2 separate regions of the Homo sapiens genome follow, and region 2 is linked to region 1. Evidence: fine-mapped expression QTL. A gene starts in region 1. The other region holds a variant in brackets. All regions are shown on one strand. Distances are between the middles of the regions.

The links. PIP is the estimated chance that this variant, and not a neighbour inherited with it, causes the effect.
Region 2: its variant is fine-mapped to the expression of AIMP1 in whole blood (TOPMed, PIP above 0.99).

Annotation. Positions count from the first base shown.
Region 1 is chr4:106,311,452-106,324,307 of GRCh38, forward strand. AIMP1 (aminoacyl tRNA synthetase complex interacting multifunctional protein 1) reads left to right here and starts at 5,099. Exons shown (of 7, transcript NM_001142416.2): 1 at 5,099-5,143. It overlaps TBCK (TBC1 domain containing kinase), which reads right to left and starts at 4,758. Exons shown (of 26, transcript NM_001163435.3): 1 at 4,480-4,758. RefSeq lists enhancers at 4,338-4,427, 4,508-4,567, 5,058-5,307.
Region 2 is chr4:106,348,723-106,366,017 of GRCh38, forward strand. It overlaps GIMD1 (GIMAP family P-loop NTPase domain containing 1), which reads right to left. Exons shown (of 3, transcript NM_001195138.2): 3 at 8,670-9,721. The coding sequence ends at 9,461. AIMP1 (aminoacyl tRNA synthetase complex interacting multifunctional protein 1) reads left to right here. Exons shown (of 7, transcript NM_001142416.2): 7 at 1-734. Among named protein-coding and RNA genes, the nearest start is that of GIMD1, 11 kb to the right of the region's middle. The variant G/A (reference allele first, on the strand shown) is at 6,501.

The sequences.
Region 1 (12,856 bases):
AACATAAAATATTCCAGTTTTCATAAAACTCAAAAACAAAAAATAAAACAAATAATTCTGGAATACTTATATCTATTGTAAGAATATATTCAATAAGTAAGGGAATTTAAAAAAAATACTCAGAATATGGGTTACTACCAAATTAAAGTGGGGTAAGGTTAGGGAAAAATTCATAAAAAGCTTCAAAAATCTTGAGTAATAGCCTAGTTTTTAGCTGGTGAATTAATGGGTGTTCATGTTATCATTATGCTTGGTAATTTCCATGCTCTGTATCTATATTTATCTACATATGTGTGTGTTAATACCACATATTTCATAATTAAAAGAATTTAAATAAAATAAATTGATTCTCAACAAAAGCAAAAGAGTTCAACAGGAAAAGGAAAGTCCTTTTTACAAATGGTGCTGGAAAAAGATATTCATATAAAAAAATAATAACCTCAACTTCTACTGATACATCCACAAAAATCTAAGATGGAACATAGGCTTAAGCGTAAAAGGTAAAACTGTTAGTCTTCTAATTGAAAACATAAGCGAATATCTTTACAACCTTAGGCTAGGCAAAGATTTCTTAGACACAATAGAACAAAGCACTAGCCACAAAAGACAATTTTGACAAAGTAGACTTCATCAAAATTAAAAACATCTGCATATCCAAAGGCACCCCTGAGAAAATAAAAATTCGAGTTAAAGGGAAATATTATTTACATCTGTCTGTATATACATATGACATTATGTATATATATGACCTTTTAAAATCAAACATATGTGTGTCTGTATATAATTGACCTGTATTCGGAGTCTATAAAGAAATACCACAATTCAATAATAAAACAAGCCAATACATAAATAGGTAAAAGTCACAAACATATTTTCACACAAGGCATGAAAATAATAAGCACATGAAAAAGTTCTTAATATCATTAATTGGGGGAAATGCAAATGAAAATCACAATGACAAACCTTTAACTTCTACAATGGCTAAAATTTAAATGACTGGCAGTAACAAGTGTTGAGAATGTGGAAGTGGAGCTTTGCTATATTGCTAGTGGGAGCGTAAAATGGCAAAAGAATTTTGGAAAATATTTGGAAAACTTTTCTAAAGTTAAAAATATCCCTAACTTATGACTCAGAAATTCCACTCTTTAACCAAGAAAAATGAAAACATTTGTCCATAAAAAAAAACACTGTATGAGTATGTTCATAGGAACTGTACTCTTAATAGCTAAAAACCAGAAGCAATGCAAATGTCCCATAAGTGAATCAATTAACATATTTGTACCATGAAATTCTATTTAACAAAAATGGAACAAACATGTCAAAACATGGATATACTCAAAAACATAAAGTTTATGAAAGAAGCAGACACAAAAGAGTTCATACTGTATGACTCCATTTAAATGTAATTCCAGAACTATAGTTCTAAACTATAGTATTAATAAAAAAATCAGAAGATAGTACTGTAGATGGGGGAGAGGGGTTGAATAAGCAGAGAAACAGAGGAACTTTCTGTAGTGGTAGAAATATTCTCTATCTCGATTGTGGTGGTAGTGGTTTTATGGATGAGTACATGCATCAAAACTCATTAAATTGGCCACTTAAAATCAATGTGTTTTAATATGTATCAAATTTTATCTCACACAAAATAAAACAGCTTATGAGAAGATAAACACTGCTATACATTTTCAAAGCATCAAACGTAACTAGAAAATTGTAAACATTTCAGACAGAAAAAACTGATTCTGCTATCAACAAGTTAAAGTGAGACTGGCATTCTCATCAGCAATAATGAAAGTCAGAAGAGAGCCTGGTGCAGTGGCTTGTGCCTGTGATCCCAGATACTTGAGAGGCTGAGGTGGGAGGATCACGTGAGGTCAGGAGTTTCAGACCAGACTGAGCAACACAGTGAGACTCCAGCTCAAAAAAAAGGAAAAAAAAAAAGTTAGAAGACATGGAAGGATTGAGAGTTGAAGGAAAATACTTTTGATTCTATATACAGCCAAATTATCAGTCATAAGAGCAAATTATAATTTACAGCTATACGAACATTAAAAAATAAAATTACCTTTCACTTGCCTTTTGTGAGCAAGTTTCCTTAGGATATATTCCAGGGAAATAGGGGGAAGCCCAATAACAGAAGATGAGGGGCTAAGAAACAATGTTATTTACCCAAGAATGAATATAAGCCCAGGATAGGAGCAATACAAAAGGACTAGAATGCAATCTGTTCAAATTAAACAGAAAGCCATTGGGCTTTAAGGGGAAAATCTTCAAACAGAGGAATGGAAGCTTGCTTCTATGTGCATCATACAAAGAATGAGAAGATTCAGTGAAGAAAGCACATCCACCTACCTATTCCCCAGGAGAAAGCAGAAAGGCAATTAAGAAAGTGGGGACGGTTAAAAACTATGTATTACATACTCCAAAATATAAAGCATGCTCAACTACAGCATATTTTGCCCTTGGCAGGAAAGAAATAAAAACCCATTTGACCTTGATATCATAAATAATCTCCTTAGTATGGCACAGGGATCATGAAGTTAAAACTCTGGGGAAAAAAACATATCAGAGCATACAGCTTGGACTTGCTCTAAGTAACAACTATAAAGCCATAATACTGTAAACATTTTATTTTTTTTATTGGTTTTTGGCACGTGAATAAAGCGCAAATGTTATAGTTAAGAAATATATTACTAACTTTGACAATGTACAAGTAAATGTCCAGCTAAGAGAAAGTGGGCATAAATGTAGTTTCTGAAGTGATAAAGAAAAAGGTAGAATCACTACTTTTCTCGTTTTACCAAACAAGGAGTCAAATATATTTTCAAAAGTTGATGTGAAAAAAGTAGTTTACGTATATTATTTTGAATTATAAAGTAACCAATACAAAAACTAAAAATTATGATTATGACTCTTCCAAAATTCAGAGGAGATTGTGAATGGTGTGGGCTATTTCTAGAAGTCAACGGAAAAAGAATTAGCAGTTCAACTTAGGGCTATCTCAAGAAGTCAACAAAAAGAATTAACAGTTTAACTTATTATTTAACCTACAGACCTAAAATTAGAAAAGGTTAAAAGTGGTTATCTTTGAAGAACAGTACTGAGAGTAGGACAGGTGAGACAGTTGCACTTTATTATTCAATCCTACTACGCTATACTACTTGATTTTTTTTTTTTTTTTTTTTTTTTTTGAGACAGAGTCTCACTCTGTCATCAAGGCTGGAGTGCAGTGGCATGATCTCGGCTCACTGCATCCTTCCACCTCCCGGGTTCAAGCGATTCTGTGCCTCAGCCTCCAGAGTGGCTGGGATTACAGGCGCCCGCCACCACGCCCGGCTAATTTTTGTATTTTTAGTAGAGACGGGGTTTCACCATCCTGGCCAGGCTGGTCTTGAACTCCTGACCTCAGGTGATCCACCCGCCTCGACCTCCCAAAGTGCTAGGACTACAGGCGTGAGCCACCGCGCCCGACCATTTTATTTTCAATCAGATGTCTTTATCATCACATAGCTGAAAATAAAATAACCAAATAAAACACAATGATCGAAAAAGATAAAACACTAATTAGCATAATCAGTGTTCTTTTTCCACTACCTCTTAAATGGTTGTACATAAAAAGGCTCACACACAAAAATACACACACATACATTCACTTACACCTCGTGAGTGGAAGAAAACTACCGGGGGAAAAAAAACGTAGAGATGAGAGATTAGATGAGGGAAACAGCAGTGCAAGCAGTTGGGCTTGAAAATTCATTCATTCAACAAATATTTTGAAGCCCCTATTTTAAGTCAGTTGTTTTTCCAGCTGGTGGGCAAAGGATAATGAACAAGTCAGACTCTGTGCCCTCAAAGAACTTAGAGTTTTAAACGACTCGAATGGGGAAAGAAAGTAAAAAATAGGGCAAAAGACGCCGATTTTATCATGAATAAAATTTCACATTTCTTCAACAGGAAAATGATACTAATTCATTTATTTTATATATACATTCTCTCAAGAGGTTATTTTTGTCTCAAATAGATAGAAACCAGGACAGGGATCCTTGAAAAGCAGCCACTGACAATCCTCAAGTAACTTCCTTCCTCTGCTTCACTTTCTCCTACTGCTCAAGGGGGTGTTACACTTTGACGACTGACTAAACCTCGAGGGCCAGAAACAAACCAAAGCAAAATTCTGCCTCCAAGGTGAGTAATGGAGGGGCGGATTCTAGATTCTCTAACCTCCTTTAGCCTTCCTTTGAGGCAGTGACAGAGCGATTACTAAGCCTACGGTTCCCAAACGACTCAGGTGAACCTGATTTACAGGAAAGGCGGGCTGTAGCTAGGGATGGAGACAGTACCTATCAGCAAGCGGCTCCACAGCTCGGTTCTCTATCTATTCTGAAGACATGCGGGGCCACTCACTGCTCCTGATAGTCCTCTACCTCCCACAGACCCCACCCACTACGACACGGAAAACTGGATTACCCAAATACCTGCCTCTGAGTCTGGGGACGCAGGCAAGCACAAAGACAAGGGGGATGGAGCTTCTACACAGGGCCCCAGCGCTGTCGCTGTGGCTGCTGCTGCCGCTACGGCTTAGTGCACCAGACGCTGCATTTCAGGTGCTCCTACAAAAGAGGCCACTCCTGGAACGCCGGGAGCTCAGACGCTGCCCTTTGCTCGCGAGCCAAGTCAGCCAAGGTTAACCTTCGCGGAACCCGGCGAGGAGCGCAAGCCTGGCCTTCCCCAAACACAGATCCGAGCTTTTCACCCTCTACCCTCCCCTCAGCCTGGCCTTTTCTTCCGCCCTCACAGCCACCGCGACCCAACGCTGAGGAAAGACCCCGACTTGTGGTGTCCTTCCCCTTGCCCAAACTGGCCACGAAAGGACATATAGCGAGAGAGAAAGAGGTGCGGGGGGACGGGGGGGGTCGATTGAAAATACTGGGTGAGGGAATGGAAGACGAGGAGCGTGGTATGGCAGGTTAATGGGACTGAGCACAGGAAGAGGAAGAAAGAATTGAGGGTTGAATCTGTAGAACACTCAGGCTTTCAGCAAGGACACCTCATTGGGTCCTTTCTCACTGCTATAGTACGCGGGTGGCTGGACCTACATGCTTCCTGCTGTGGCTGTCTCGGAACCCGTGGTCCTCCGCTTCATGTGAGTGACGTCGTGGCGGGTCACTCACTCGGGGATCGCCGATTGCGATCGTAGGGGTCTTCCTTCTCTAACTTGCCTCCAGGAGAGAGGACCTGGCCTGCGCTGCTAATGGGTAGTCCGTTCGCAGCAGGACCAGCCCTGGCCTAAGGAAACAGGAAAGAGTTTGAGACTTCCTTCTAAAGGAGCCACGTTTGAGAAATGGGATGCAGGCCTAAGTTAAGAATGCTACAGAAAAATATCGATCCCTAAGCGTATTTACTGTTATGTGAATGTGTGTGTCAAAGGACTTAGGTGCTTTGGGGGAGAGGAGGGTGAAGACAGGAATTTATTCATTGAGCGAATAGTTATTAAGCGCCCACTCTATTCCAGACACCGTTCTAGGCATTAGGTGAACAGCAGTGAACAAAACAGACGGAAATCTGTGTCTACTTGTAGCTCACATTTTAGAGAGGAAGGCACATACTAAGCAAAGTAATTAGAAACATACTGTATTTTAGGTCGTGATAGTCCTGAAGAGAAACGTAAAGCAGGGAAGAAGGGTATAAAGTGACACAGGAAGGTCTTGCTGAAAAGATGACTTTTAAGTAAAGGGCTGACAGAAGTGGGAGATTTAACCACGCGAATATCTTGGGAAAGTGCAGTCAGACAGAGGGACCAGCCATTGCAGAGGTCATGAAGCAGAAACGTGCTAGAATAGCAAGGAGGCCTGTAGGGCAGAGTTGAGTGAAGGGTTTAGTCCTTCACTGGAGATTAAATCAAGGCGAGCAGGTCATGAAGATCTTGAGGACATCTAACTTTTATTCTAAATGAAATAGGACTTTGGAGCGTTTTGAGCAGTAGAGTGATGGGCTCTGACTTCCTTTTAAGAGGGTCACTCTTTAAGGAAAATACACAGAGGAGGACGTGGTAGGAGAAAGGAGACCAATAAGAAGAGTTTTGCAATAATCCAGAGGAAGCATAATGGTGGTTTGACTATGGGTGGTAAGAAATGGCCAGTTATATTCTTGATGCACTTAATTTGGATATGTAAGAGTATTATAGATGACAGGGTTAATTTTATTTAATTAGGCTTTGGAGGACACTTGAAAAATGAATTCCAGTGTGAGTTTCAGAGTGGCAAACACAAGTTAAAATCATGGCTTTGCTATGTGGTACTTGAAGGGATTCAGATAAGTCATGTAATTTTCCTGGATCTGTCTATAAAATGGAAATCACATCTGTCAAGATTGCAAAGGTTAGGGTATATTATAGGTATTTAATGACAAGGTATGTAATGGGTCTAGTCTGCAAATCTTAACCAGGTAAAAGATGGCCTTATTGTGAGGTAAGAGGGTCATGGGAGGCCAAGGCATACTCCTTTTTAAATTTTATGGACTCTGTACTGGGGAGGAAAGTTTTTGTGTTAATGACGATGGTATTTAGAAATGCATGGACTGGCCTCTCATAGCTGTCCACCCTATAGTCATTCCTTATAGCCATCCTTTAAACCCTCCAGGACCCCCTATGTCCTCATCAGTAAAGGGAAAGCAGGCTGTCTGGTAAGGGAAATAGGAACTTCCATAAAAAAGCAATTTTAGATATTCTTTTTATAGGTTTTGGCAAAGGTTGATAAAAGACCTAGGGAATTACTGCTGGTTGCTGCGCTTACATATTTTGAGTGTCTTCAGATGCATTGTTCTCAGTGTATTTAATTTTCTTCTTTAAATTCTGACTTTTGACACATATGATTTAAATCCTAGCAGGAATTTTCACCTAGTGCTAAAAGGTACCACATTGCTTTACACTATAATAAGGACGGTCTTTCAGTGTGGGGTATTTTATGTATACTATAATATTTTTACATATCCAGTAATTAGATTGTGTAGCAAATCAGGGAAAGAAGTTGGAAGGCAAGAATAGGAATGAAGGGAGGAGAAGAAAGGAAGAAAATGATTAAAATTACTATATTCCATCAATTCTGAGATACACATTTTTCTCTTACTTAACATCTCTGAAATAGGGATGTATTTTTAAGTTGTTGACATCTTTAAATCACTGTAGATGAATTGGCAGTTGTGAGATATTTGTCATTGCCCACACTTACACCCACTTAGTCATAACTTAATCTTGTCATTATTTCAGTTGAGTTATATATGCACTATTGGCATATAGTTGTTGAGTGTAATTTCCCTTTTAAAGATCATTTAGAAGATTATGATTAGCATTAGAATGAAAAGTTACTGTGTATGTGGGGAAACAAAGGGTGATACAAGATAAAAATCCAGGGTTAAATTTAAAAGAAGTCTGTCAATAAATAATATAGGATGTGTCTAAGTAATAAGAAAGCATTGGGTCAGTTGATTCAATAGTGTTTTTTTTCATAATGTACATAAAATAATAGAGCTTCTTGGGATTGAAGCCATTTTACAATTGATGGCATTTTAGATTTCTTGTATAGTATTTAAAGCTTCCAACAAAAATGTAAATTTTTACCTACTGTAATTCTGAAATAGGGAAATTAGAGGTTTTGAGTAGAGACACTTTCAAATTTGTGTAGCGTTCCTATATAGCATAAGAATTCTAAAATTAAAAGTCTGCCTGTAAAACTTTGATTTCAAAGTAGTAACTTACTTATGTTTGATTCCCAATGTTGTCATCGTGGGGCAGAGATTTTGCTTTTTCAAAAAGATTGCAGGCAATTTAGATGGTGTGGGTGGGGAGGACTACTGAGGAAATTGCTCAGTAAACAAAAATGATAGTGAAGATCTCAGAATCTCAAAAATCATCTTTTGTGTGTGTATTTTAATGATTAAGATGTACTATAAATTCATGTACAGTATTTGGGATTCTGCATTAGAGGCATCGTATGATTAATGGCTTTTTAGGTTTGATGAAGTATGATAATTAACATTGAGAAGGACAAAATTAATGTGAAGGGACAGAATGATTTAGATAATATGTTTCAAAAGCTTTTGTCCTAAAAAATGCATTATTACCATTTTAATTTAGTAAAGGAAAAAGAAAAGGTCTTGATCCTCACCAAACACAATTAACATACTTGGTCTACAGTTTTCTGTGCTTCTCTCTTCATAAATGTTTTATATTTTCAATTACTGTGCATGTCATTCTTATATCTATTTTAATCTCACAGTCTTAATTTTTTTACATTTTAGTCCAGAGACTTAAACTAGCATTTCCTAAACTGTTTTAGAGAATACTAGTTCAAATAAATGTTAATAGCTGTTCCTGTGTTAGGATTCTGTCATTAAATATATTGGAAAATGCTTCGTAATTATATCCTTTAGAGAAATTATAGCTAGAGCATTAAAAGAGCTAACTGCAGCATCAGACAGACCTGAGTTTCAATCCTCGTTTACTATGTATTACATGAGGCAAATTAATTTTAATTCAAGTTTTCTTCTCTGTATAATGGAGATTATTACAGTATTCGAAATTGACTTGTGTAAAGCATTTAGCCAGCCATAGCGCATGTTCTACAAATATATGTAGTTGTTATTATCATCTATGAGAAACTTTATACATATTAGAAACTCTGAGGATTTAAAATTTTGAAGGTTGACTTATACTCAATGTAAAATTGAAAAATCACAGGGGAGTAATTAGCATAGAGATTAATGAAATGAGCACTGGGTTGAATGGTAAAAGATTTGTTTGAGCTTTAAGCAGTATTGTTGTTAAACTATCACTGTGCCCTAAGCGTAACATTATTTTAAAAATGTCTTCAACTGTGTTTCCCCCATTTGTCTGAAAGCTTAGTTAGTTCAAAGAACATGTTTATTTTTGTTCTCTACTATAAACCCAGCACATGACACAAAATCAGGGAGTGTAAAGTTGGGGTCATGAACTTATTTTAGGAGCCTGGTAGGTAATATAAATGGCAGACAACAGGGAGTAGTAAAGTGTCTGTCTGTCTTACTTAAAGACATTCACATCAGTTATTTCCAACACTGTTAGCCCTGGAAAAGAAAGCTATCCCTGAACTTTGTCAGGCTAGTTTGTGATCCCTAGAAAAGATTAGTGATTAAGACCAAACCCTGAAGAACAGCATCATTAATGGGACAGATTAAAAAAAAAAGGAGCCCTGAAAGGAGGTGACAAGGAAGTAGGAGGTGAAATCAGGTACAAGTAATTTTTTAAATTAAGAAAAGTATAGCCCTCTCCCTCTCCCTCTCCCTCTCCGCACCGTCTCCCTCTGATGCCGAGCCGAGGCTGGACTGTACTGCCACCATCTTGACTCACTGCAACCTCCCTGCCTGATTCTCCTGCCTCAGTCTGCCGAGTTCCTGGGATTGCAGGTGCGCGCCGCCACTCCTGACTGGTTTTTGTATTTTTTGGTGGAGACGGGGTTTCACCGTGTTGGCCGGGCTGGTCTCCAGCTCCTGACCGCGAGTGATCTGCCAGCCTCGGCGTCCTGAGGTGCCGGGATTGCAGACGGAGTCTCGCTCACTCAGTGCTCAATGTTGCCCATGCTGGAGTGCAGTGGCGTGATCTTGGCTCGCTACAACCTCCACCTCCCAGCCGCCTGCCTTGGCCTCCCAAAGTGCCGAGATTGCAGCCTCTGCCCGGCCGCCACCCCGTCTAGGAAGTGAGGAGCGTCTTTGCCTGGCCGCCCATCGTCGGGGATGTGAGGAGCCCCTCTGCCCGGCCGCCCAGTCTGGGAAGTGAGGAGCACCTCTTCCCGGCCGTCATCCTGTCTAGGAAGTGAGGAGCGTCTCTGCCCAGCCGCCCATCATCTGGGATGTGGGGAGCATCTCTGCCCCGTCGCCCCGTCTGAGATGTGAAGAGCGCCTCTGCCCGGCCGCGACCCTGTCTGGGAACTGAGGAGTGTCTCTGCCCCGCCGCCACCCCGTCTGGGAGGTGAGGAGCGTCTCTGACCGGCTGCCCGGTCTGAGAAGTGAGGAGCCCCTCCGCCCGGCAGCCGCCCCGTCTGGGAAGTGAGGAGCGTTTCCGCTTTCCGCCCGGCAGCGGCCCCGTCCGGGAGGTGGGGGGCAGCCCCCGCCCGGCCGGCGCCCCGTCTGGGAGGTGGAGGGCGCCTCTGCCCGGCCGCCCCATCTGGGAAGTGAGGAGCCCCTCTGCCCGGCCGCCACCCCGTCTGGGAGGTGTACCCAACAGCTCATTGAGAACGGGCCATGATGACGATGGCAGTTTTGTCGAATAGAAAAGGGGGAAATGTGGGGAAAAGAAAGAGAGATCAGATTGTTACTGTGTCTGTGTGGAAAGAAGTAGACATAGGAGACTCCATTTTGTTCTGTACTAAGAAAAATTCTTCTGCCTTGGGATGCTGTTAATCTATAACCTTACCCCCAACCCCGTGCTCTCTGAAACATGTGCTGTGTCCACTAAGGGTTAAATGGCCCCTGCTCTCTGAAACATGTGCTGTGTCCGCTAAGGGTTAAATGGCCCGTGCTCTCTGAAACGTGCTGTGTCCACTAAGGGTTAAATGGATTAAGGGCGGTGCAAGATGTGCTTTGTTAAACAGATGCTTGAAGGCAGCATGCTCCTTAAGAGTTATCACCACTCCCTAATCTCAAGTACCCAGGGACAAACACTGCAGAAGGCGGCAGGGCCCTCTGCCTAGGAAAACCAGAGACCTTTGTTCATATGTTTATCTGCTGACCTTCCCTCCACTATTGTCCTATGACCCTCCCAAATCCCCCTCTCCAAGAAACACCCAAGAATGATCAATAAATACTAAAAAAAATTAAAAAAAAAAAGTATAGAAAATTTAGATAACTTTACCAAGGTCACACAGTCTAAGTATATATAAGCAAGCCCAAGGGTATATATACCCATGTTCCTCTGCCAGTGCTAGTGATCATTATCTGCATGTTACTAGAAAACATTAACATAAACTTATGCATCCAACCTATATTTTTAAAAAATTTAAATGATAATTAATCAACAAGTATTAGAAAACCTGTTTCCAGAGCTTCTGTTCTAAAGACAGCAAATGGCTTTTAGCACTTGAGCACAGTTCTGTTAACACACAGACGTAACTAGAAGTGAAATATTTTTAGATTTCACAAGATGAGACTTTTTAACATTGGCATCATGAATAATATTTCCAGATACCCAGTTATCTAGGACTGGAGAAGAAGTAGAGTCTGGGCGCCAGTGCAATGGCTCACACCTGTAATCCCAGCACCTTGGGAAGCCGAGGTGGGCAGATCAGTTGAGGGAGGTCAGGATTTCGAGACCAGCCTGGCCAACATGGTGAAACCCCATCTCTACTAAAAATTCAAAAATTAGTCAGGTGGCAGGCACCTGTAATCCCGGCTATTTGGGAGGCTAAGGCAGGAGAATCGCTTGAACCCAGGAGACGGAGGTTGCAGTGAGCCAAGATCGTGCCACTGCACCCCAGCCTGGGTGAAAAAGGAAGACTCTGTCTCAAAAAAAAAAAAAAAAAGTTTTATCACTTCTTTTTATCACATTGTTTCCTTTTAGTAGTTGCATATGTGTATTTAGTGTTTAGTTCATTTGTATTTCTGTATTTTGAAACATGACATTCTCTTTCCTAAACTTATGCTTGTTCTTCAATATGTATTATAAAAGTCATATTTTATGTAACTAACTATTCCACTTATATTTTGCAAATAGTTAACAGATTTATCAACTCAGTAAAATTGTATTTTTTTCTCTTAGGCTAGGATTTATTATCTCTATTTTCAAAATTACTGTTATTCTTAGAAGATTTTTTATATGTTTCTGTATGAGTCAGAACATGAGTTTCTTTTTTTGATTTTTCAGCAACTTGGTGGGTATTTATTTTTGAAGGACTGTCTAGAACTGTTGGCTTATTTATGAGCATTATTCTTTATGGACTATTATTTTAACAGTTTAGAAAAATACAGACCAAAAGAGCACAAAAATTCAAATGAAGATACCACCTTTAAACTCTGCTATTTTTACCAAAATGAACACAGAATACCATGTTGTTACTTAAACGTTTGCAAAGCCAGAATTGTAGAGAAAATATCTTAATAGAAATGGATATATGAAGAAAGTTAAAGTAAAAAAAAAAAAAAAACTATGCTCTTCTGAATTTTAGTATCCTGAGTACAGCATTTCTTTAGTTTTTGATGTCTTTTTATTTTAGTCTAACATAAGTAATGATGAAATATACTCAATAGGTAAAATGTAGCTATCACAAACAATAATGAGTATCTGATTAGGCAGAATTGGCAAGTTTTACATCTCTAGCAAAGACATATTTGATGAATAATACTAAAATGAATGAATTGGTGCATTTTAGAAAAATACATTTTGAAAAGATATGGCTCAAATCATCTTATTCAAATTTCAAAATTAAGAGAAAAACTAGAAAACTAGTATCAGCTAATATGAAACAAGTAGATTTAAGTATAGACTGATGCTCAAAAATGAGCCAACAGATCTAGACAGTCACCTCAAAAATAAATACCAGCCAGTGTATTGTGGCTTTTCAGAATATTTTTTATATAGGATTGGTATTATATAATAATTTGAAATTTTCAAACAATCTGTTACGTGTCTATTATCTAGTTTTTATTCAAAATTTCACCATTAATATTGAGTACTGCTTCATTTATTTAAAGTTAGAATTATTTCAGCAATACTTGTATCATTGTTATACCTTGAATTATAAATTCTTGTTAAATCAGGTAGAAAAGAACAGTTCATAGTATTACTAATGATTAACCTCTCCATTGTCAGTGTGATTATTTTTCTTAGTAT
Region 2 (17,295 bases), 39 kb after region 1:
GCAAGATAGGGAGTGTGGATAGGGGAGGGCTGGTAGCTAACAAGGGGCCTCACAGAGAAATATTAGTGACTTTAACCAGGTTTCAGAATCTGGGCCTTACCTTTACAGGTTCAACAAAAGAATGGCATCAATAGAGGCAGAAGTATAGACATTGTTTTAAAAATACACACATGCACACACACACAAAACATTTTAGCATTATAGCTGTCTGAATCCTTCAATAAGAAGGAGAGGCACACACAAATACACACACTCACACAAAACTCAACAACCATAAAACAACCCTGCATGTTATAAAAGGCAGAATTAAATTTTATTTATTTAAATCCATGGAACTCTGGTAGGCCAGGATATATTATAGTACCATTATCAATGTGATATTCTGAAAATATGAACTGAGCGTCATTAACAATTGTTGGTACCTAAACACAAAATGAATTTCAAAAGTTACTTTGTTCTCAAGATATGTCATTCTTTTGGGAATAAATACTTCTGGTGACAAAGTCTTTTGTGAGTTTTTTGCTCTAATTTTTCTCAATTATATTAAATTTCTTTAATATAATTTAAATAATATTTCAACTACCTAGGTAGTTGAAATTTTCCCAACTAAATGTTGAAATACTGTACCCCAGATCAAATTATCTAATGTTTTGTTAGTGAAACCTAAACTGATGATTAAATCGTTCATCAAACCTAGAGATAATAAAAACTATTGGTCTTTTGTTAAAAGCCCATAATGTAGCATCATCAGTAGCTCATTTGTGCTGAAATTTATGACGACTTACTACAAAAGAGTACATTCCAAAAATGTCACATTTGTCTTTCTCAAGTACTATATTATGCCTTACCAAATTATAACAAATGTCCATGCTTCCCTCCATAATTCCCACAGGTCTTTACCATGTAAAAATCCATGCTAAAGAGTGCTAAAGAGAGAAAGAAGTGGAGAATTAATCAGTGATTTTTCAAGTTGTATGAAAGCATTGACCAAGTTATCCATTCAGCCCTATTCAGTACTTGTTTTCACAGAAAACTTAATTCTGTTTTATTTGTATTGCTGGGATGGGAGAGCTCTTACGGAATCAACAAAGAAATAGCATTGTTGGCAAACTGGACATAACACTTCAGCATCTGATGTATTCTGGTTTTTAAGGATTTCAACGATAGGGGGTAGTGTTTGGTGGGAGGATCACTTTGAGCCCAGGAGAGCAAGGCTGCAGTGTGCTGTGATTGCACCACTGCACTCCAAACTAGGCTACAGAGTTGAGACCCTGTCTCAAAAAAAAAAAAAAAAAAAAAAAAAAAAAAAAAAAAAAAAAAAAATCTTAGTTGGGGAGCACCTCGCTGTTTCTTATAACTGGGCATTAAAATGGCCTGAGTATACCTCCTCAATTTTTCAGAGAAATGATACGTCCTTTTAAAATATAAAAGTATCAGAAGTATATAACATTAGCCATGTATTTCACCTACATAAATAGTGACACAAGTCCTGATTCTAAGTGCTATCCAGCAGTATGAAAATTACAACTTTATCACCAAGATGCAAAATAAAAAGAACTAGGAAGGGCAAATTAGTATGCTCAACAGGCAATAATGTTGCAAATTGCTGTCTCATGGAGAAAGCTCTACCCTCCAAAATTTTAGTTAAGGAATAATCATGCCTTCTCTAACAAATGTAAGGGTGATATATTAATAATACATGTCTACTGTCATGGATTTTATTACAGAATTACTATTAAGATTGTTATTGCCTTCTAACTAGTCTTTTCATGTGTTTTATCCACCCCTTAAAAGCTCCTTTTGAGGTAGATCAGCCATTTTACCCCAAAGAGTCAACAGAAAAGTTAAATAAATGCCCCATACAAAGTTGAAACCTGGTTTAATTTTTTTCAGTTCTTACTGATCCTGTGTTCTCCAATACATCATGCTTTCTTAACATGTTAGTTAAATGGTCATGTGGTTTCTTTTATTTGAATGAAAAGTTTAGCTTTACTTTAAATGTTAGAGAAAAATAGTGACATAAAAATACCTAAATTTGAGTAGTTTATGATTAGCTCCTTTAGTGGAATACTTAAGAGATTCTAAAGGGAGAGTTGAGATTATTAAACACTCTTTGGAGTGGTTATGAAGAGAATTTATCAATTTTTTTTCTTTTTACTATTCAAATATATAGGGAGAATTCACTTGGCAAAACCAAGCTGCTGCTGCTGGTAGCAGTTGCCTTTTTGAAGAGGTTTATACCATGATTCTTTGAATAGTGCGCTGTTATTGAGGGCACTGAATGTGTAATGACAGTCCATCCCAAAAGCCAACATGATAGATGTCACTAAGTTCCATACAGATAGATAATTTAAAACAGAAACATAGGTATACTCCATTGTGATACTACTTATAACCCCAAAATTTGCAATAATGATGAAAAGGATAGTTGCTGATGGCTAATATGCCTCTGTACAAAACTGAATCATCTTCAGGTACCAACTTGTTGGAATTAGAAAGAGTCACTTCACATTATTTTGCATTGTACTTTGTATAGTTATGGTTTTTCCTTTGAGTAAATCTTGGCAGAGATAACTCATAGGAGTATAACTCCATAAAAATATTTGGAGGAAGGACCCAGAACAATGAAATAATTGTTGGTGTGAAAGTGAGCCATCTGGAATTTCAGAGTGTGAACTAATTATTGTATATTGTATTTTTTCACCCTTATGTATTTGGGTTTTTTTTTCCCCTTCCTTTCTAACTTCCACCTATCCTAACACACACTATTCCCAATTCTCTAGATGTTTAAGTACAAAAACGTGTGTAAGTATGATTTTTGTCTTCATCAACATCATTTCCTATCTGGCAGGCTGTTGGCCTTAGCAACAGGAGCAGAAACAAGCCTGAGACCCAATAATTGCAAGAAAGAAAAATCCTTTTTAATGAAGCGTTAACTACTCTTGCCCTTCCCATTGCTACATAATGCCTACAGAATTGTTCAAATAGCCATTGTTAATGTCTTATTTCCTCAATGGCCTTTTTGTGATGAACCTTCATATTAAGGCTGCTCTGACAAAGTTTTACATTTGTTTTTGTAAATTGCCTCATTAGAATATCATGCATCCCAGCAGAGAAATGCACCCAATATATATGTGCACTTTGGTTTTCAGATTGCATATTTGGCTGATACTTGTTCATTTAAAATCCCTCAAATTTTCACACCTGGGGAATTTGGAAAGAACAGTGCAAGAGTCATCCAAAATCAACACCACAACTGTATTTCTCTTTGAAAAAGATTAATGAAAAATGCAAACTAAAAGTCACTTTCAATAAGTTTAGCAAAAGGGAATGATTTCAGTAGAAATAACTTTTTTCGAAAACTTTCAGTTTTCCTATAAAAGGATAACATTTTTGTGTTAAAACTGCACATACATTGAAAACAAAAACAAAAACTTTTCAGATACTTTTGGAGAGATTTGTTTTGAAAACAAAGTTGGAGTGAGAATCTGGGAAATAGCAATGCCACATAAAAGCATTAGCTTTATGTAAAAGAAGTACAGTATATCTGAAAATCAGTAGAATAGAAAATCTAAGAAAAATTTTAATATAAAAAATATAGATAAACATAGCTTTAAAAAAGAAAGTCTTTGAAAATGCTGTTTGAGGTGATGTATCTAGAGGAACAAGCCTGGCAAGAGTCAGAGCTGATAGATTGCAGGGGTAATCACTGGTGACCCCACATTGAATGCACTAATGAGACTTTAACACTAGCTGCACAAAAACATCAGATACACTGTCTTCCAATCCTCTAAAATACTCAAAGCACTTTCAAATTAAGCTTTAGTAGAGATTTTTGGTGTCTGGATGAGAACAGCATACAGATTAGGCATCTAGAGGGACATGAGAAAATATTGCAAATAATAGACTCTCATAGGAAAGGTGGCAGGGTACAAAAGATGAACTTGCTGGACATCGCTTATTTTACTTAAAGTAATCCTAGTCTCATGGTTCTTTAGATGCGTAGGGGCAGAAAGATGTGATACCTTTCCTTACCCATCTTAAGAGTCAAAGCTGACACTCCTGTAACAAAAGACAAGAGAAAAACATAAGTGTATTTAATCCAAGTTTTACATGATACACGAGCCCTCAGAAATGAAGACCAAAAGACTCAGGGAAAGCTGTCTATTTTGTGCCTAGGATTGCTGAAGAATGGACAGCCATATAGCAATGTAATTGGATAAAAGAGAAAGTGCTAAACTGTAATAGACTGGTCAGGGAAACCCAGCAAGGCCATCCAGATTCTTCTTGGTGTCTGTAGCATGCCTTCCCCTGGGTATGGGGCAGGACCCTTCTGGAATGAGGGTCATCAAGGGAGAAGGGAGACAGTGACCTTTCTAAGTTTTATGGCTTGCTTTCAGGATAAGAAATTCTGGTTTCTGTGACTTTCTTCAAGGGGAAAAAGAGGTGGAACATAGGAGGGCAGGAGAAGGACAGAAAGACCTTGCCTCTGAAGCTCCTCCAATCTCCTTCAGTTCAAAGTACTCAGCATGCCAAGGTCTCGTATTTGGAATATGGTCTTTTGAGCCCCCAACAGCTGCAAGTTGTAATTACCTCCAGAACAGATGAGTTTATTCAATGAATATGCACACACTGTCATCCAGAAAAAGCTGAACAAACCAGCCTCAAATGGAGAACAGCAGCAAGACGTTCACTTCAGTGCCTTAACATTCATATAATCCAACATCCCCATTACCAACTAACAAAATATTTCCCTACACCCACTATGCTGATTCTTATGAAAAGCTAGGATTGCTATTGCATAATGGTACACAGAAGAGTATGTCTAGAATTTAATGCTTCATGGATATTATACTAGAATTCAGAGTATATTGGGAAAACACACTAACCAGAAAGATGGGAAAAGATGAAGAGGAAGGAAAACAGTGGTAAGATATGGACCTTCTACTATTTGTATATTGAATTAAAAGAGCTAATGATAAACTACCAGGATATATGCAATGTAAGTTATAAGAAAGGACTCTTGAAACAAAAGGGACAACCTGCAAGGGGGAGTCTTGAATTAAATAATTAAATATCTGAGCACAATCTAGTAATATGGTGAAAGGAAAAGCATTCCAAAGTCCACTTTTCTGGGGAGGATAGGAGAAAGAGAACTAGGGCGGAAATGGAAGTATTGTAAGGGTCTTATTTTAATAGTAGGAAATTCTTGGTAAGGGAAATAGTTCATACTGTGTCATCAGGCAATAGCAGAGAAGTATGTACATGATTGTGAAATCAGGGGCAAGAAAATAATCTTTAATGAGGGTGAATTAGAATAGAACTTCCAAATTATCAAGGGGAAATATTGAATTAATAGCAATGTTATCAAGGTAGCAAAACTAAGGAAAAGAAAAAATACAATAAATACACTAATATAAAATAATAAACATAATGTAATATTCTGTGTCCTTGTAAAGGAAGATTTAATATCATGGGGTGTCATTTACCATACACACACACACACACACACACACACACACACACACACAAAATATTTTTTTTTTAATTTAGGAAAAACAATCTAAGAACATGTATGAATGAATGCCTGAGTATAACCAGAAAATATTTTGAAAAAAGAAAACAAGTTTGACCTCCTAGATATCAAGGAATGATATAAAATTATTACAATTAAATCACTTTGGTATTGAGAACAATATAAATAAAATAGGTAACAGAATAGGATTAAAAATACAGGATAAATCCAGAAATAGATCCAGGATATACGTTTCAGTCTCTATATCTAGCTACCTACCTACCATATAAGTAGTAAAAGGATGAATTTATAAATAGAACAAATACAACTGGTTACTCATCTGAAAGGAAGTAAAACTAAAACCAGCTATATCATGTACACGGAAATATATGACTATAAAAAATTTCACAAATTTAGTTTGGCAAAACTTACCATACAAAGTTAAAGGACAAATAATAGATTTGAAAAAACAATTGTTACTCAGAGGACAGACAGAGGGTTAATATCTGTAACATACATAGAGCTCTTCCAATTTGCCAAACAAAAAGTAATCCAATAGAAAAAGAAATGACAAAAGGACAAAGGATGTGAAGAGCCAATTCATAAAAGACTAAGTCTAAATTACCAAAATGCTTACACAAAAATGTTCCAAATACAGAAAATCGTTCCAATTGGGAAATGCAAATAAAGTAACAGTGGGCTGTGGTTTTACATTTATTCAACTTGTTAACAATAGGTGTTCAAGATGATAACACCCATTGATGGGGAGAAAACAACTCACGTTGTTGGAAATCAAGTTTATCACAATATTTTTACAAAGAATCTGTTAAGATATATTAAATGTATATATACTTTTATACTTTTATATATATACTCTTGGGAATATAACTTACAGAAAAATAGTATTAACTAAAAATATATGTACAAGAATAGTTGCTTGAGCATTGCTTTGGGTGACAGAAAACTGGAAAGCTCATCAACAGAG[G/A]AGCAGTTGCATAAATTGTTACATAAACACTGTGAAATGTTTTGCAGCCTTTAAAAAGAATGAATTTGGGCTATATTTTAGGTTTGGAAAAATTTAAATGAGGTGGTGTTGAGACAGCCAAGTAAAAAGGGCTCCTGGAGAATCTCCAACTGGCCTGCACACAGAGAGGACAAGGTGGAGCCGCGGGAAGTTCTTGTTGTTTGCAGAGAGGAGGAGCCTAGCCTCTCCTGTCACTGGGTGGTAACCTGGGATTCAATTGGTGAGATGGGGTCCCATTAACAGGAACCCCTCTCACTTTGCTGAGCTTTTTTTCGTTTTTCACCCAATAAATTCCGTTTTTCTCACCCTTCTATGTGTCCATGAGCCTAATCTTTCTTGGTCGTGTGACAAGAACCCAGTTTTTAGCTGAAACGAGGAGAAAGTCCTACAACCGTGTTAAAGTGAAAGAAAAATATATTATGAAGAGTGTAATACAAAAACTTGTTTTTAAGTTGAAAAGCCCTGTATATTTTTATGTGTTTATATGTGCTGTGTGGGGATGATTACCTGGACATGAAGAAAAATAGAAACAGTGGACACCAGGCTTTTGGTTGGCATCAGTTATCTGTAATGGGCAGATTTGCAAGGAGAAGAGGAGAGAGGTAAAGGCAAAGCAAAAAAGCCACATAAGACTGCTAAAAGAAAATAAAGTATGTAATACTACCACATTTAAGTATTTATGTGGAAATGTCTGTGTGTGTATATACACACATGTATACACAGTAGGAACACCTTATCCAGAGGGAATATGTTCCAAGGCCCTAATGGATGCCTGAAGCCAAAGAGAGTACTGAGCCCTAAACATACTATGTTTTCCTATATGTACATTCCTGTGATAAAGTTTAGTTTTTAAATTAGACACAGTAGGAGATTGACAAGAATAACTAAAAATAAACTAGAACAATTACAACAATATACTGTAATAAAAGTTATGTGAATGTGGTCTCTCTCTTAAGAAATCTTATTTATGTAATATTTCCAGATTGCAATTGACCACAGGTAACTGAAACCACAGAAAGTGAAATCACAGATAAGGGGTGATACTGTATATGCAAATATAAAAATAAATAATTCAGGGAAGAATATCACAGAAATCCTCTTTGACTAAAAGCACCTCTCTATTAATCATCAATATCAGGCCAGCCTCACAGAGCTTAAATCCTTAATGTTCTGCACCATATATACTTCCTGAAATGAACTAGTTTTTGTTTTCTAGAAAAGTTAACTGACAACACATAAATGAAGCATATGAAGAACTTAACACCTGAATTCTTTTCCATTCTCCTTTTCTCCACCAGTCACCATTGTTTCAACTTCTTAGCATCAAGTCTCTTTCTCTGTCCCAAGCCCCAACAACCCGTGGGGCAAGTGTCAGTTCTCACTGCACTTCCAAACTCTGCCCCATTGTTGAGTCTCCCACTTCTCAGTCCAGGGCCCACAGCATAGGAGCAAGAGGTCATGCAAAGAAATAAGTGAGATGTTGTTTTAAGTTGGAATCTGTATTATGCTTTCCTATAGAAACATTTTATAAATCTAGCACAAATTCAAACGTGTACTGGAGTTCACATAATATTGTGCATTAAAGTAGGCTTTTGAAGACTACTCTGGGAGAATAACCACCGGCTTATAAGAACAAACTGTAAATTGGGAACTATCTTTGTGAAAAAATTTTATAAATTATGAAGTTCATATACAAATATTTATGAAAGTGATCTAATTTTGACTTGCTGGTGGACTTCACTCTTATCACTGATTGGAATTATTTTCCTTCAATTTTCACTGCTACCATTGGGACCATCCTGAAGCTCTCCACTAAACCATAGTGGCCAACCTTCAAAGGTAGAAGGTCTTTAGTGAAGGCTTTATTCATAGTCAATTATCACAATTGTTATACTCATTTTTGCTAAAGGGCTTGCTCTGAGTTTTTACCAAATGTTTCCAAACTGAAATAGAAACCACAGGTTACAAGGAAGTGGAAAAGAAAATTAACATATTTTAAGCAACTACCATGTGCCATGGCATTTAATCATTACAATAACTATGAGTAGGTATTCCAAAGAAGGAAACAGACTCTGACAAGTTTAAACAATTTTTCTTTTCTGGCATCAAGTAAGCAGTGGAGCTAGTTCCTTTTTAATGGATAATAACTAATTATTTTTAACTTTTATTTAAATATAGCATATACAAGTAGTTTATAAATCACAAGTGTTTGTTGTTGCATTTTCACAAAGTGAACAAATCCTGTGAAACCAGGCTCCAAATCAAGAGAACAAAAGAACATGACCAGAATCTCAGAAGCCACATCAAGTGTAACCTTTCACTCACAATCTCCTCCCCAAGGTTAACCACTCTCCCAATTTCCAGCACTTCTACCATCAGAGTAGTTTAGATTACATTTGTTTTACTGTTTTTGAACTTTCTGCACATGGAATCATGGAGTATGTACTCTTTTATGTCTGGCTTATTTTTCAACATTATGTTTGGGCAATTCACTGGTATCGTTACATATAGTTGAGCTTGCTTATTCTAATTACTTATTCTAATATCCCACTGTGGGAATATACCACAATTTACTTAACCATTCTAATATTAATAGACATTTGAATAGTCTGTATGTTTAGCTTTTGAATAGTAGTTCCATGAACATTATTGTGCATACATGTCTTCTAGTACACAAATGTACACATTTATGTTGGGTATACACTTAGGAGTGTAATTGCTATGTCATGGGATTTGCATTAGAAATCTTGAATCATTGATGTTCTTTTTAACTTCTAGTTTTCCAAAGTGGTTATACCAATGTACACTCTCACCAGCAGCATATCAGAATACTTATGGTCCACATTCATGTCAATAAAGGCATTCTTTGTAGCTAGGTTTCTGACTCCAATACCCAATGCTCCTTTCCTTTCACCTAAATTTTATTTAAATGTAAGAACTTGGTAACAGTTCTCTTTTATAAATTCCATGATTCTTTCTAAGATTTTCATTCTTTGTTCATTGAGTGATTTTCCTTTTTTGTACTGGAAAACGTATTTGTGCTGAATAGAATTTAGCAGCGTTTTCAGGGTATCAGAGGCCTCATGTAAATATTTATCTTCAGTAAGCCCAGCCTCTTCTATTTTTTCTGCATGGGTAAAAAGAATGGCTGTGTAATTCATCCAAGCATGTCCAAGAAGTTCCTGAAAGAGAGAAGTTAGATAACTATTGAACTTGAACTATATTCCTCAAAAATGAGCAAAGGATTTATTACGGTCCAATATAGATAGCCAGCAGATCCATATTATTATGTTTCTGAAAGCTGATATACAATGTAGGAAATGAAGACAGGGTCAAGTATTTTAAGTAAATGGAGGGAAAAGGCTTGACTTTCTGAAAAAGGCAGGATTAAACAGAGAATTAAATTCTCTCTTTTATTTTACTATGATAATTGATATATACACAACCTCAAAACTGCATATTATCATTGCTGCATAGATTTCTCAACATTCAGTAATCATTTATACTTGTCTGACTACCTGAGTCCATTAAAGCCACTGAATTTAAGTCGGAGGACCTTAGTCAAGGGAATTGTTTTATCTTTTACTTTTATCATTATCATTAAAAGCATCTACTAAAGATATAAAATTACATAATCTGTTAAGAATCTATTGATTAATCAGGTGACATGTAATGGAAAAGCTCAGATAAAAATACATTTGGTGATTTGGACGAACCACAAAATATTATAACTGTGAGTCTCATCTTCTTGACTTCACATGCTTAGAATGGAACCCAATTTATCTGATGACTTCCTCTAATGTGGTTGAAAAACATTGAAGACTGGCATTCCTTTGTTTAGTAATATGTGGAAGTTGGTTATGTAATAAATTCTTGTTTGATTAGTGAATATAAGCTGATATAAAGCAGAAGTAACAGCATGTGGCAAATTGTTCATGTAATATAAAAGGCATCTAGAAATAACCCTTGAACTTTTTGGGATATTTCTAAAGTTACATGAAATCACAATGTGACAACAAAATAACATTACCTCCATTCCGAACACTCCTATTACCAAAATATTTCCAAAGCTACTACTAGTTTATGGCAAGAAAAATACAAAATGCCTAGGAATAAACATAATAAGAAACACCCAAGACCTCTAATAATCAGAAGAAAGAAAGAAAGGAGAAAAACTAACATTTAGTGCCAGATATTATGCTAAGCACTTTACATGCGTTACCTCTTTTGAAGCTTAATGCAATTATTTGTGGGAGATACTATTATTATCTCCATTATGATATTGGCAAACTGACTTATAAAGACTTTGAGTTATATGTATTAGTACAAACTCTGGTTTTAAAAAATTATTGAAAATATTGAAAGACAGTCTGGGAAATCATTTTCAATGTACCTAAAAAATACAGGATTAGAATTTATAATATGGAAAAATTGAAAACAAAGAAAAAAGAAGAAGGAAATAAGAAAGAAAACAGAAAAGGAAGAAAGGAGAAAGGAAGGAAGGAAGGCAAGCAGGAGTAAGGAAAGAAGGAATCTGGATAGGTAAATCTAACATGAAAATACTCGTGAGAACTACGGGACAAAACATTTAAAATTAGAAACATCACAATCATGGTCACCAATTACAACTGATACAGTCTGGCTTTTATCAGATTCATTTATTTATACATCAATTTCTACAACTTCATAGTGAACTCTTTGAAGGCAAGATTCATGTCTTTCCATATCAATCAAAGCTTTTAGCACATTGTAAACTTTCAGTAAACATCTGTTAAATTAATTTGGAATTTAGACCCTCATTGTCATCTCAAATAGAAGTCTTAGGGTTCTATTTATTTCTTTTGAGGTTTTGGTTTTGAAGTATAATTAATCTTTGTAAAGCTTCTTTTTTTTGCAGTTTATCATCATGAATTTGCCTGTAGTCTGGACTATTTTCTATTCAGAGGGACTCTTTCAAGGAATAGGCCCAAACTTTTTCTTCATATGTGTTCAAAATTTTTCTATGTACACCCACCATAGAATAACTGCATATTTCTATTCCTTCTAAAAATACCCTGCTTAAAGTTTCACAATCAGTATATTAGGGAATAATTACTGTAATAGATTATAAACTTTAAAAAATAAATTTTTAAAAAATTAGTATCCATATAATGTCAGCATCCCATTTTGCCTAATGGTAACATAGCAAAATTAGCAGACCTCTTTAGAGTTTGTTGTATATTCTGTATATTGTTAACAGGTCTCTGCTGGAAGAGGAGTCACAGAGTTGCAAAGTAAATGAGCAGTGATGTTATGGGTTGAATTGCATCCTCCGCCAAACTCATGTGTTGAAATTCCGATCCCCAGTTCTTCCGGATGTGATCTTATTTGGAAATAGGGTCATTGCAAATATAATTATTTAAGCTAAGGTCATTAGGGTGAGTCCCTGTCTAGTATGATTGGTGTCCTTATAAAAAAAGGGAAATTTGGGCAAAGACGCAAGTCCCGGGAGAGTGCCATGCGTACGTGAAGATAGCCATCTACAAGCCAAAGAAAGAAGCCTGGAACAGATCTTCTCTCACAGCTATCAGAAGGAGACAACCCTTACAACACCTTCATTTCAGACTTCTAGCCTCCAGAACTGAAAGACAGTAAATACCTGCTGTTTATGCCACCCAGGTTGTGGTACTTTGTTACAGGAGCCCTAGCAAACTAATGCAAGTGGCTAAAAAAATTAATAAAGTACTAAGTATATTAGATCTGGCCTCTGGGAATACAGCAATCCCTGGATCATTTGCATCAGAATCACCTGGGAGGCTTTCTAAAAATGCATCAGAACCATTAGGGCTGGAGCCTGGAATCTGAATTTTATAAAGCATTTTAGATGATTTATTCCTTCTGCAAATATTTATTGAGGGTCTACTTTGTTCTAGGCATGCTCTACATGGTAGGGACAGGTGTGGAACAAGACAGACATATTCTGTTTACAGTTAGTGGAGATTTTTGTGTACTAAATTAACTTGGGAAGGGAGACAGACAGGAAAGAAATACTTTGAATTTGTTTCAATTGCAAGTGTGATAGAAATTATGTTAGCATTATAAAGGTGATCATTTTGCCCATTTTGGGGTGGAGGTGGGAAGTAAGGGTAAAAAGGAAAGACCAGACAAGATGTCTTGCATGTGATGATGCAGTCACCAGATTCTTAAAAAATACATAGGAATTAACAAGGTAATTAATGTAATCAAGCATGATTGAGATTGTACAGCATTGAGATTTTATTTCTAAACAAGTACAGCTATTGATCTTTGATCACTCTTATCTCTGAAAGATTATCAAATTTAGAGCCAGACCTGATATTCACCAAGTACGCTATGAATATGGTCATACTGATTGTCAGATATCAAAATGTTTTCATACAAATTATTAAATAGCTACTGCTCTTAACTCCTTGAGAGCCATCCTAAACTTACCCTTAGATATGTATTGGCTGATGTGTAGATCATACTTGTTATTAAATATTTTTGAGCCCCAGTGACTTAATGAATAAGGTATTTGCCTCCTTAAATATTTTTGAAATACAGTATTGCTACAATAAATGTGCATGCTAAATAAACTATTTGGCACAAACAATCCTTTCTTGAGTTATATATCGTAACACAGAATTATTTTCTTTCTAGGTTAGTACTTAATGAAGTAAATGGTTTAACTTTCATAGTATTTCTTTTGTTCCTGTTTTTCTGTATTGTAACATTAACATGTTCCCTTTTGGTCTCCACCAGACATTTCCCATACTTTAAACCACAATCTCATTCAGAGAACGTGAGTTAAATCACCTAAGGATAATAGATTTGTAAGTGCCATGCCACTTAAAAGTCCATGTGTTCAGCCACTGGGAAGTTTTTACACATTTATTTATGAAAGGATGCTCATACCTTAAACTGTGAGAGAAATTGCACTTTTGAATTACTGCCAAAAACAGAAGAGAGTGGTTGATTTAGCTTAAAATCTTTAAGTCGATTTTGGCCAGAAAATAGTTGAATATTTGAAAGTAGTGTTGCTTGCTGAATAGTCATCACGTTAGTGGCCAAACATGTTCTCTATGGACCCAGAGAAAGAATCATTACAGTTGATTGATACCTCACATAAAAATCCAAAAGCAAGATAAGTTAATGTAAGTTATCTGGTGTTAATAATTTAAATATAGTACTAAGCTAGATGAAAATTTTATGATCAATCATGAATTGTTTGGTTTGAGTGCTAATGGGTATGAGTCCATTTAGTCCTTTTGGGACTACTGGTTAGGATATAAACTTTGTTATCCAGGAATTATGTTCATTTTCCCAGGACCTCACCAGCCCTGCCCCATTTGTTTGTGGTTGATGAAATCATAGCATCTGGACTTTTTAGGGTGAAACAAACAAACAAAAAGCCAACTATTACATCAACTGAGAAAAAAATTATCACGGAACAGGAGGACAATGAGGACCATTTTTTTATACTTTATGCTATTCCCTTACTCTCACCCCAATTAAAACATTACATTTTCCTTTTCAGAGAGCCAAAGCTGAATGATAATTTCTCATTAGGCCAGATCCAGAGAATATTCAACCTCAGAGATCATCTTATAAACTGCCTCATTTTACAGATGAGGTATTGAGGACTTACGGTGTTAAATGACTTGGCCAAAGTCATATGGCTGATTATTGACAGGCTTGGACCTGGAACCAAGGTCCCCCATCTTTCCCACTAAATTGGGGCTCTTCAATTTAACCATACTAAGCCAGTGAAGATTTTTCCAGATTTTTTTTCTAAATTAATAAAAAAGTTACTTCTTATGTTTATAAATCAGGGCCACGTAAATTTGATTTTACTCTTATTTTCTTCATAAGTCTACCAGGATAAACCTAAAAAACACTATTTCCTAATTTTAGGATAAGACAAATACTAACAATGAAATAATAATGGCCAGAGCTATTTGCTGTGCACTTGCCACGTGCCTGTGCCTAAGCTATATCATTTACCGTTGAAAGGGCATTAATCCCACAAGTAACCCAATGAAGCAGACACTACTGTCTTTCTCAATTTACCAATGAAGTTTACAGAAGTTACTTGCCCGAGATCACAAAGCAAATAAGTAGCTAAGACTTGAATACTTTAGAACCCATCTCGTAATCTCTATGCTATCTTGCCCATATCCAGTAGTTCATTTGAATGAGTACTCATTCACAATCTCAGTAGTGATCATAACAATAAAAACAACAATACTAGTAATACTTTACCATTTTCTGTGACCTACTGTAAGTAGGCACAATGCTGAGCATGATGTATTTATTAAATATAATGCTCAGAACTCTTAACATACATAAAATTATCTCCACATTACAAGTAAGGAATTGAAACCAAGAAAGTTTTAGTAACATTTATAGTCATACACCTATGAAGTAATTAGGCTTGTTTTTTTAACTAAATTCTAACAACTAAGCCCACAATCTTCATTTAGTATTTTCAGGCTCTGAATTAGCTTTTCCGAGCTTTTTGTAAACACATTCGTCTGCAACATCAACAGCTCGGTTGTTGATGATGAAATAAAAGTACATGCTTGAAACTTGCTTGTACGCAGTAATAATACAGAATACCATAATGGGGGGGGGGGGGCGGAAATGGACCATAGGCAATACCTAGGTACAATTCCTACTGCAGCTTGGCTGTATGCCAGCTCTTTCCTTGAGGTGACTATATTATATCTTCTCTGATTCATTATTTGTGGGTTTATAAACATTCAAATGAGATTCCAGATAATATTTGAATAAATTCTTCCTTCTATTTCTTGATTTTGGGGACATGACTCACTGATATCTCTTTCATTTTACTGTAAATTAATAAAGGCCTAACAAAAAGAAAAAGGGATCATTTGGGGAAAATGTTTCCATCGTCACAGCCAGTAGAATATAACTCCTCTGCAAAATATTAGAGTACAAATTGGGGAAGATATTTAAAGAGACAACCGGGAGGCATGGGAAAGAAGAAGCTACTTCTCTGACTCTGGCTTGGTAGGCTCCTTCTACAGTACTAGTCAGTGCCCCTGAAAAGGGGTAAAAGAAAGAAGGCAGATACTCCATACTCCATTTTGCATCAGCCAGGAAGAAAAAGAAATCCATAGTGTGCCTGAAACCTGAGGACCTAACAGCTTCTTGCTCCTTCCTAACAGCTGCTGGTCCTGTTGAATATTCAGACACTCTGCAACAGCTTCCAATCTGTGAGCACATACAGATGGCTGCCACCAGTATCTGAGGCACCTTCAGGAAGATCACAAACAGCCAGCCTGTGCTTAAGTGACCATCAACCAAAGACCGTAGCAGAACCCTGGAATAGGTCTGCAGTGCTCCCAGGGATCATAGGCCACTCAAGATTATTAAACCTTGGCTGCTGATTTTCTTGGGAGACGGAAGTTATTTATTTCAGAAAGAAATATTTGGGATCTGAGCTTTGCCCTAGCTCATCTCCTTGCTGCCTTCAGTTCCTGAATTGCATACTGATTTGGAAGGCATCTGTAAGAGAAGACTATATGCCAAATATTGTTTTAAACGACCAAAGACATGTATGAATTGAGTTCACATATATAAAAAAGACTCACAGATGACATTATTGTCCCATATGCTAAAACTATTAAAACCTATTTTCAAAATGTATGATATTTAAAATAACCTTTTGGGCTCAGCATAGGTTCATGGTAGGGAAATATTGAGACGTATGGAAAGAGTCAGGGTAGCTTTTGAAAAAGAGTTGTTTATGTGTTTACTGCATTTACTGAATTATATCCATCTATAGCCTCATCTAAATGTTTACTTAATAATAGCTTTAAATGAATTTTTAAGAACTGTCTAAAGATTATACTGGTGTCATGGATGCAGGCTTCCCACCACTTGATTTCTACCAGAAACATTGCTTGAAATACAGGCTTTCATAATTTGGAGGAGGCTTGTGGGCTTTCTTAGATCCCATACTGTTTCTTAATTGCAATCATCTTCTATTCTTCCTTACTTTTGTATAGCAGGTCCTTGGTTTTTCAGGAGTTACATGATGAGCATTTTTTATGCTCCTGTCACCCTGATTTTTCTGCTAGTTTCTTGTGATTATACATATGGCTGGGTTTTTTTTTTTCATTTTTAGAAACATGCACAGTTACTGAAAAACAATGCGTGTATCTGTCACGTAGAAGTATCTTTTCTAGTTAAAGGAAAAAATCTTCATTAAAACCAAGTAACTATCTTTCTGGGCTGTAACAGGGCCTATGTCAGTATGAGCTGAGACTGAACCAAAAGAAGGGTAGCATTTTTACAAGTTCTTCTTGAACAGAAAAGATCTGTTCACCATTCAGTATAAAGTTTAACTGTGGAGCTTCTAATAGACCTGGTGTCTCTGAGCTCAGTGACTCATTGAGGCTCTTGAGTAATACTAGTGAAGTCCAGCAGCTAAATTTAGATTGACTCAGACTGAAGAATCAACAGATTGAATAGAATAGAGCAGCTCAATGAATAGTTTCCAGGAATTGTTAGGAATAGTTTCCAGGAATTGTTAGTAATAGTCTATACAGGGCTGTGTGGACTATTGTTAGTAATAGTCTACACAGGGCTGTGTGGACTATTGTTAGTAATAGTCCACACATCATATGCACACACACACATGTACACACACGTACACACACACACACACACACAAACTCCCAACTCCCTCCATCTCCTAGCTGTGGTCATGTCCAGGCCTCTTATCCAGCTC